Linked DNA regions of Homo sapiens: region 2 is linked to region 1. Evidence: fine-mapped QTL for protein levels in blood plasma. A gene starts in region 1. The other region holds a variant in brackets. All regions are shown on one strand. Distances are from middle to middle.

Evidence for each region. A credible set is the group of variants that fine-mapping cannot tell apart. PIP is the chance, under the fine-mapping model, that this variant and not a neighbour inherited with it causes the effect. Protein levels are from antibody-based Olink assays in UK Biobank. Linkage for the fine-mapping came from a reference panel and not from the study's own genotypes, which makes the PIPs less certain.
Region 2: its variant is the best candidate, but not a certain one, in a credible set for the plasma level of the TJAP1 protein (UK Biobank, PIP 0.62).

Annotation. Positions count from the first base shown.
Region 1 is chr6:43,475,401-43,479,791 of GRCh38, forward strand. It overlaps TJAP1 (tight junction associated protein 1), which reads left to right and starts at 2,170. Exons shown (of 11, transcript NM_001350562.2): 1 at 2,170-2,228; 2 at 2,687-2,832. RefSeq lists an enhancer at 2,520-3,313.
Region 2 is chr6:43,544,109-43,548,499 of GRCh38, forward strand. It overlaps XPO5 (exportin 5), which reads right to left. Exons shown (of 32, transcript NM_020750.3): 18 at 4,153-4,352; 19 at 3,500-3,599; 20 at 2,463-2,644. It also overlaps a transcript of POLR1C not described here and LOC124900224. Among named protein-coding and RNA genes, the nearest start is that of POLR1C, 29 kb to the left of the region's middle. RefSeq lists an enhancer at 2,861-4,060. The variant C/CTA (reference allele first, on the strand shown) is at 3,676.

The DNA.
Region 1 (4,391 bases):
TAGTTTAGTTAGTGTAATTTTATTAAATTAATTTTTAAAAAGATATATAGGATAGAAAGGCATGGATGGGATGGGAAATAAAAATGGCTGACCTCTCCCTCTGGGAATCTGGAAGCCTCTGCTGAGGTTTTTGTGTGTGTGCGTTGATGGGGGGTGGGTACATGAGATCAGCTTCACCAAGGGGCAGACCAGCTCCATCTCTAGGCCCAGGGAAATGGGATACCTTGCTGCTCTGAAATGTTGATGAGCTGCGGAGGGGAGAGGGACAGGGGAGCAGATGGAATTCCTGGACAATTGTTCCGGCTGTCACCAGAGAGGATAGGCTGGAGGGGGCCCTGGATAATTTATGGAGGGACAGATGCTTCTCCGGAACCATCTGGCCAAGAGAGGCCTGGGCTCGGGGTGGATGATGTCTTTAGGTCTGAGGAGACTCCTGGCCTCCAGCCTTCCTCATTTCCTCTACCTGGCCTGCTCGGTGCCCTGGGGCTTTCCTAGGATGGCTGTGCTCCCTGAGGACCCAGCTGCAGAATTCCACCTGATCCTCATCTCACTCTCTCCTTTGCTGAGTCTGGGGCTTGTCTTTGCTACCATTCCTGTTAGTGCTAAGTGGGGCCTTGAGGTCATGTAACTTCCATCTATGCATTTTCTTATTTTATAGTATTTTCAACCCCTCTTCTCCACCAGTATATTCCAAAATCTGTCAATCACCAACCTCCATACCATTTATTCATTCAATAAATATTTACTGGCCGGTGCAGTGGCTCACACCTGTAATCTCAGCACTTTGGGAGGCTGAGGCAGGTGGATCACTTGAGGTCAGGAGTTCGAGACCAGCCTGGCCAACATGGTGGAATGGTGGAACTCCCATCTCTACTAAAAATACAAAAAATTAGCTGGCATGCGCCTGTAATCCCAGCTACACAGGAAACTGAGGTGGGAGAATCACTTGAACCCGGGAGGCGGAGGTTGCAGTGAGCCGAGATCGCACCACTACACTCCAGCCTGGGCAACAGAGTGAGACCCTGTCTCAAAAATTAATTAATTAATTAAACAAACAGAATAAAAAAAATCTATTGAATACCTACTATGCCAGGCATTGTTTTAGACACTGGGGATACTGTGATGAGCAAGAAAACATCCCAGACCTCTGGAGTTTGCTTTGTAGTGGGGAGATGATCAATAAACAATAAATATTTAATATAATGTCAGATAATGATAAGTACTATGAATGAAAACATTAAAGCAGGGTAAAGGAGAATAGGGATGCTGATTTAGATTGAGTGGCCAAGGAAGGCTTCTCTAAAGTGATGACACTTGAGCAAAGACACAAATGAGAGTCAATATTTGGAGGAAGAACATTCCAGGTATGGGGAATAGCAAATTTAGAGACCCTGAGGCAGAAATATGCTTAATGCATTGGAGGAAAACATGCCATTTATTCATTAGGCAATTATTGTGTGCCAAGCACCTGCTAGGGAGTATGAAGATGCAATCAAACATAGTTTTTGCCCTGAAGAAGCAGCAGGGCAAAAGTGGTATAACATGTAAATAAATAATTACACTGCACGGGACAGCTACAGTAAAGCTATGTACAAGTTGCTAGTGATGCCCAGCAAAAGGAGCACTAAAGGGAAATCTTTCTGGGGGAGGTGACATTTTAGCTGATGGTTTGAAGGAATAGGAGGAATTGATGATGCAAAGGAGGAGGAGAGAGATTAGACATCTTAAGGCCCGATGTCCTGAAAACAAAGGACAATTTGGGAACCTGAAGTTCCCAGGAGAGGCAAAAAATGAGGCTGATGAAGGTGGAAGAGCCTGGATCATGCGGATCTTTGAATGCCAAACTGAAAAGCTGGTTTTATTCTCTGGATGACGGGGAACCAGTAGCACGATTCTCTCTCCCACTGTATCTTTGAGATGTGTTCCCCTATTCTTTTTTTTTTTTTTTTTCTTTCAGTACTGGATTCTTTCCCCGCTTCCCGCTATTGCCCTGCTCCTGACACCTCCTTCCTTCTGTGGCCAGTCCTCCAATCCCTGCTTTCAGGAGAGCCCCATTTTTCACCATCACCTACCTAGTGTCCCACCTCCCCAACCCGAGGCCCCGCCCCCATGGCCCCGCCTCAGATGACGCGACACGCCAAGTGCGTGGGGATTCCCGCGGCCCTGGCCACTACCCGGCCTGCCCCGCGGCAAGATGGCGGCCTGAACGCAGCTGGCAGCGGCGGAAAGTTTGTTGTGGGGTTGGAGTAGTCGGGCGGGGAAGCCAGAGTTGGGGAGGATTGCGGGGGCCCTAGCCTGTAGTAGGGGCGAAGGGGGTACTGGCTCCAGGGTTGAAAAGAGGAGATGGAATGGAGTAAGGTCCGAGGCGGAGAGGAAAAAAAGGAGCTGGGGCGGACCGGGGCCCTAGGGTCCAGTGGCAGCCCTAGGGGAGGGGGATTTGGGGGCGGGGCAGCCAGAAGTAGGTGTTGTGCAGGCCCTGGAGAAGCAGAGTCACAAGTTGGAGGAAAATTTCTTAGCCGCGAATAAAGAAGCCTGGAGCGTGGGATAGAGGCCCGACTGTATCTGGCCGGCCAGAGGGGAAAGGGATCTTTCTAGTAGAGTGGGATAGTGAGGAAGAGAGATCTGGAGGATGCCGGGCAGATCTGCTAAGGAGGGAACTAAAGCCAGTCAAATGACCCTCTTCTAGGCTTAGATCAGCCTTTCCACAGCTGTTAGCAGCATCTGCCCCAATTTCAGCTGAAGATTCAGGTGCCCCAGGGACTGGAAGAAATTACAGTGCCTACTTGGAAAGAAGAAGAGATAGCGACTTGCCCCAGTCCAACCCCAGAGCGGGTAAGGTGGCTTCCAGTGACAGGTTTCTGGCTGGCATGCTCCCTGGGAGGAGGATGCATGGGCTTAGAGTGATGCCAAGAAACATTTGGTCTGAAAAGGGCTCACTTTTATAGAGTTTGTCCTTTGTCTGAGGTCCTTAAGTTAGTGTTTGGCGTAGATTGCAGGCTGACTTTTGAGAGTTGGTGTAGAATTAAGCCTTGTGTGCCTTCACCTATGCAAGTAAACCTGGACAGAGGCCTAGAGACCAGGCCGAAGGATGTTAACACATCCCTGTCACAAGCAGTTTCCTACATGCTCATTGTTTCTGCTTCAATATCCCCATCACTTCTTCACTTTGGCGTCCTGCCTGGAAGTGGAGATTTGTGGGTGACAGATGGTGGGGAGTCACGAGAAAACAAATTCTGATCGTGTTCACTGACCATTTAGGTACCTGCTGTCACTGACTCCTGAATTCATTCTCGCTGTGTGTCTACTTTTGCTTTTTTGGTAAGAAGGGCTCATTAGTGTTCCTCTGGGGATGTGGATTTTGGTGGGGGTATCAGAGGTGAGGGAAAGGCAGGTTGGGATTAGAGAGAAAAAATGTAGATCAGTTTCTGGTAAGAGATCAAGTGGACTGATGTAAAGCTCTGGGAATGTTTAGCACCGCACTGCCTATCCTTGAGACCCCTAATATTTGAGAGCTACTTTACAGTTGGACAAGTGTGGTGATGCAAAGAAAGGATCATGGAACTTGCTCTTTTCTTTTCTGGTAGTTTTTTTCTCTCCTTTGTAATCTTCCCATCAAACCACTTTTGAAAAATATCAGTCTCAGTAGCCAAACTAAGCATGGCCTGAGAGGTAGTGGATTTGGTGTTGGAGAGAAAGGAAAGGGACTGGAGCCAGAGAACACAGTGAATGTGGCCTTCACTTCCTTTGGTGAGTGTTTTGCCCTAGCCAGAGTTGGGAGTAGCCTTCTTATTGAAGCCTGCTTCAGGATCAGCATCGCTTCATGGTGGACTAGGATGGTTTGATCTAGAACTCTTCATTTACTGTCTGCTCTGTACCTGTCCCCCCAATCAAAGGCTTACTCCAAACAGAACAACCCAAGTCACTGTTACTAGGTCAGCTTCAGTACCTTTAGGTATTTGAAGAACTGATGATATGTAGCTGTGACTCTGTTTCTGAAGGTTGAGAACCTCCTTTTTCTGAGGACAATTCGTGCCCCCTTTCAAATTGTAATTGTAATCACCCAAGGGTAGTGTGGTGAACACACATAACAGTTAATAGCACTGACTCTGAGCCCGGCCTAGTGGCACATACCTGTAGTCCCAGCTACTTGGGATACTGAGATGGGAGGAGCACTTGAGGCCAGGAGTTTGAGGCTGCAATGCACTATGATGGCACCTGTGAATACCCATTGTACTCCAGCCTGGGCAGCGTAGGAGATGCAGTCTCCAAGAAACAACAAAAAAAGCACTGGCAGGGTGCAGTGGCTCACTCCTGTAATTCTAGCATTTTGGGAGGCCGAGGCAGGCGGATCACGAGGTCAAGAGATCGAGACCATCCTGGCCAACAAGGTG
Region 2 (4,391 bases), 69 kb after region 1:
CTGAACTCTTAGAAAAGTATCAAAATGATAACCATCTGAAGACTAAGAAAATAGAGTCCTTAAAGTCAAGCTGAGTCTGCTGTTAGCCTCCTAAATGAAAGGATAGACAGAACAGGTCTTGTTTGCAAAATAAATTCAAGACCTACTTATCTACCGACAGCAATTATACACTTTCCATTGTCTTTCTATAGAAAATAGGAGTAGTAAATTTATAGAGGAAAAAACTGGAGAAAGACATAGTGAACACATGAGAATCTTCCTCTACTGATTGATAGGAAGGTGACTAGAAATTGAAAAGAGATTATACTTTTTTAAAAAAAGAAAATTATATAAAAAAAGATAATCATACTGTTGTCTTGTGGCCTCTAGAGTCAACCAGAAATGAACCCTGTTTCCACGTCTGGGTTGGCCACATAGATTCTGGCCACAGGCCTAAAAAGGTCTAGGTGATTAGCTTCTTGCCCTATGATTTCCATCACTTTCACGTTTCTCTAGCTGCAGAAGAACCTTGTGGTTTTAAAAAACATCACTATGGGGCTGGGTGTGGTGGTTCACACTTGTAATGCTAGCACTTTGGGAGACTGAAGCAGGCTCAGCTGTCCGAGACCAGCCTGGGCAACATGGCAAAACCCCATCTCTATTAATAAAAACATCACGATAGAAATAAGCCTCTTCTTGACTAAATGTTTAACCCTCTCAGTACAAGTCCTACTTCTTTTCAGAGATCTCTTTCCTCCTTTAGAAATCAAAAGAAAATATTATTTATTTATTTATTTATTTTGAGATGGAAGTCTCACTCTGTCGCCCAGGCTGGAGTGCAGTGGCGTGATCTTAGCTCACTGCAATCTCCGCCTCCCGGGTTCAAGCGATTCTCCTGCCTCAGCCTCTCGAGTAGCTGGGATTACAGGCATGTGCCACCATGCCCAGCTAATTTTTGTATTTTTAGTAGAGACAGGGTTTCATCATGTTGGCCAGGCTGGTCTGAAACTCCTGACCTCAAGTGATTGACCCACCTTGGCCTCCCAAAGTGCTGGGATTACAGGTGTGAGCCACCACACCCCGCCAAAATATTGTCTATTTCCACAGACATGTCCACAATGACAACTTTATCAGACACTCCAGCCCTCCAATTTGTCAACATTAACTTAAAATCTTTGGTTCTCAGGCTTCAGGTCTTGGGTGTCTATTCCCAGGAGAGTTTCACTGCGACATGAATAATTTGGTTTGCCCCGTTGAGACTGCTTTTACTCCTTGGAGAAGGGGCCAAAAAGTACTGAAACAGAGCTCTAACAATGTAATTTAAACATCCTGTGAGAGGCCAGGTGTGGTGGCTCACTCCTGGAGTCCCAGCACTTTGGGAGGCCGAGGTGGACTGATCACTTGCGGCCAGGAGTTCGAGACCAGCCTGGCTAACATGGCGAAGCCCTGTCTCTACTAAAAATACAAAAATTAGCCAGGAGTGGTGGTGCACACCTGTAGTCCCAGCTACTTGGGTGGCTGAGGCAGAAGAATCGCTTAAGCCTGGGAGGCGGAGGTTGCAGTGAGCCAAGATTGCACCACTGCACTCCCAGCCTGGGTGACAAAGTGAGACTCTGTCTCAAAAAAACAAACAAACAAAAAAAAAACCAATCCTGTGAGATACAAAAAGCACTCTTTGGCCAATAACTGAATTATATAAAAAAACCTATCTTTTCATTTAGAGACCATCCCTGAGTCATCAAATATCTATATCTAGTAACTGATAAGCCTATACTGGCCTACTTCCACTTGAATATATTAACTCATGTGATCTAAAACAGTGATTCTGAATGTTTAATGTGTATATAAACCACTGGGCATCTAGTTAAAATGCAGATTCTGATTTAGTATGTCTGGGGTGGGGCCTTGATTCTGCCTTTGAAATAAGCTCTCAGGTGATGCTAATGCTACTGGTCTTAGGACTCAGCTTTGAGAACCAAGGATCTAGCAAACTCAGATGAAAAATTTATAATTCCTTTGTTTAGCATGTTCAGCCAGCGGTTGTTTGGTTCATCTGAGCTCAGACTCAGTATTGATAAATTCAGATTAGCTCATATGAATACCACCTAGACAAGCATCATTATAGAAGGCAACTGCCCTGCTCCCAATGAGCAATTCCTTTACTAAAAAATTTAGACCAAATAAAACTTACAAGTAAAAATAGGGATGAAGTATAAAGAAATGGAAGAACAACAAAGAGGAGGCTCAAAATGGGAAAAGCCCTTTTGGGATTATCCCCTTGGGTTCACATGGAAATTAAGATTTATGCAAGTGAGAGCTGATGTTATTTTTTTTAAAACTGAGACACCCTCTAGAAAGAAATAAGACTTAAATCAATCCCTCATTAATACCACTAAGATATGAAGACATGTAAACAGACTAAACTTTTGAAATTTTTAAGGTAAAGTAGAAAACAACAGAGAAAAGCCATTATTCTGACTCACCTTATAAGCGCAAGCAAATTGTCAAGAAGTTTCAGAATCTGCTCTGTGCAGGGGTTACGGAAGATTGGATTTCCACTGGATGTATAACCCACCACAAATCCCCCAGCTTTGGCCTCTTCTAGGTCAGTGGGCCAGCAAGTTCGTTTCACCACACCCAGAATGCTGTATACACAAAAGCTCATCTATAGAAAAATAAGAATGACAGATAAATATTAAAAGGAAAAAAAAAAAAAGACCAAATACTGTTAGATATATTCAAGGTTCTGGCAAAAGTGACACAGAGGCCAGAGAGAATGAAATAATCCTCTGCTCCCCGGCAATCCCCCATCCCTTCCTTTAAGGTGAAGTCCAAGAGGGATCCTCTCACTGCCATTTTCAGGGCCAGTGGTAGGCTCTGGAAACTTCCCTTGCAGTAAGCTGTCTTTCTAGGAGCTGCAGTGACCCACCCACAGGACCCTGATGAGAAGGTGGCTTAGATACGATCCAAAACAAAGTGTTTAAAATGCCATCACTTCATCTTCTTTGAGTTGACCCTTATTGGGCCTTGACAGCTAGTGTCCTAATCCCCCCTCACGGTACTCTGAATCAACCTACTACTTGCCAGGTTAATTAATGGGACTTGTGCCATAATGGAGCCAGGAACAATGCTTATTTAAATAGCAAAGCACTGAAAAATCTCAGGTTTGCAAGTTAAGCCATCACTTAAGACTTTACATGCCAGAGAGCAATGGCAGGGAGGACTCACCCTGCTGACCAAGTTCTGACCTACTTCCTCATTACACCTTCAGTCTTCAGAGCTATTTAGAGATCCTTAAAGCCAAAATAATGACTTCATAGAAAAGACCATCTGCTCTGCTGTGGGAACTAACTCAAGAATTCAAGACTAAAGAAGAAAAGAAAGGAGAAGCTTAGGGAAGTGGAGACTCCCACGTTTCTCACCAGTATAGAAAAAACAAATCTATGAGAAACTTGACAAAAGACAACACCCTACTCCTACCCATGGCCAATGCCACTTCCCATTCCCAGGAAAGTCTTACTCGTGCACGGTTTAAGCCACACGGATCCTCCAGGCCTGGGTCACAGCTCTTCTGATCTGTACCCACATACGCAATGAAAGCATCAACATCTGACAGCACTCTGAAGGTTGGAGGGGGAAAAACAAGTTACATCATGACTTTAAACAAGGACAGTTTCTTCCACAGGAGTTAACAGG[C/CTA]TATCATTATTTGGCCCTTAAGAGCAGTTTTTATAGTGAGAGGAGTATAATCATACTAATTGTCAGTTGTCATTTGAAGGTTTAAATTTCCCTTCCCACTCCCAAATATTATTAGTAACAATTTAAGAATTAAACAAGAATATAATCTTCAAAATATAAAGAAAATAATTTCTCTACTGTGTGAGCACAGATAAGTGTCTGTGTGGTTGTATGGCCCTTCCTAGCTGTTCTCATTTTTCTAAATGTGCTGGTGCTGCAATGCAGACACCACAGGAGTCTCACTCTGTGCCCTCCCCACCCACAATCTAATTGAACCAGAGATTAAATTACAAAAGACTGCTTTTAGAGAACTTCAGATATCATGGATAATGCCATCACACTTCAATATCCTTAACCCCTACCCCACCCTGGGCCTAGCTCTTAAACCAAAATGGGTGCTTGAGTATAGTAAGAGTCAGGGCAAGGGATCTCCTTTACCTGTGCATGTCTTGAGAAAGCCAGATGCTGGCCACTGGTGCCATCAGCTCCTCTAGGAACACCTTCTGACGCTCGTAGTTCTTAAATTGGTTGCTAATGAGAACCAGGGCTTCCATGAGGGCACACTTCTCCATTTGTGTCAGGAGTAGCTCATTGGAGAGGAGTTGCTTCACATGGTTATAAAGCATGTCAAAATTGGGCTACAGATCAAAAAGAAAAAAAGCCAGAGGTGGTAAAGG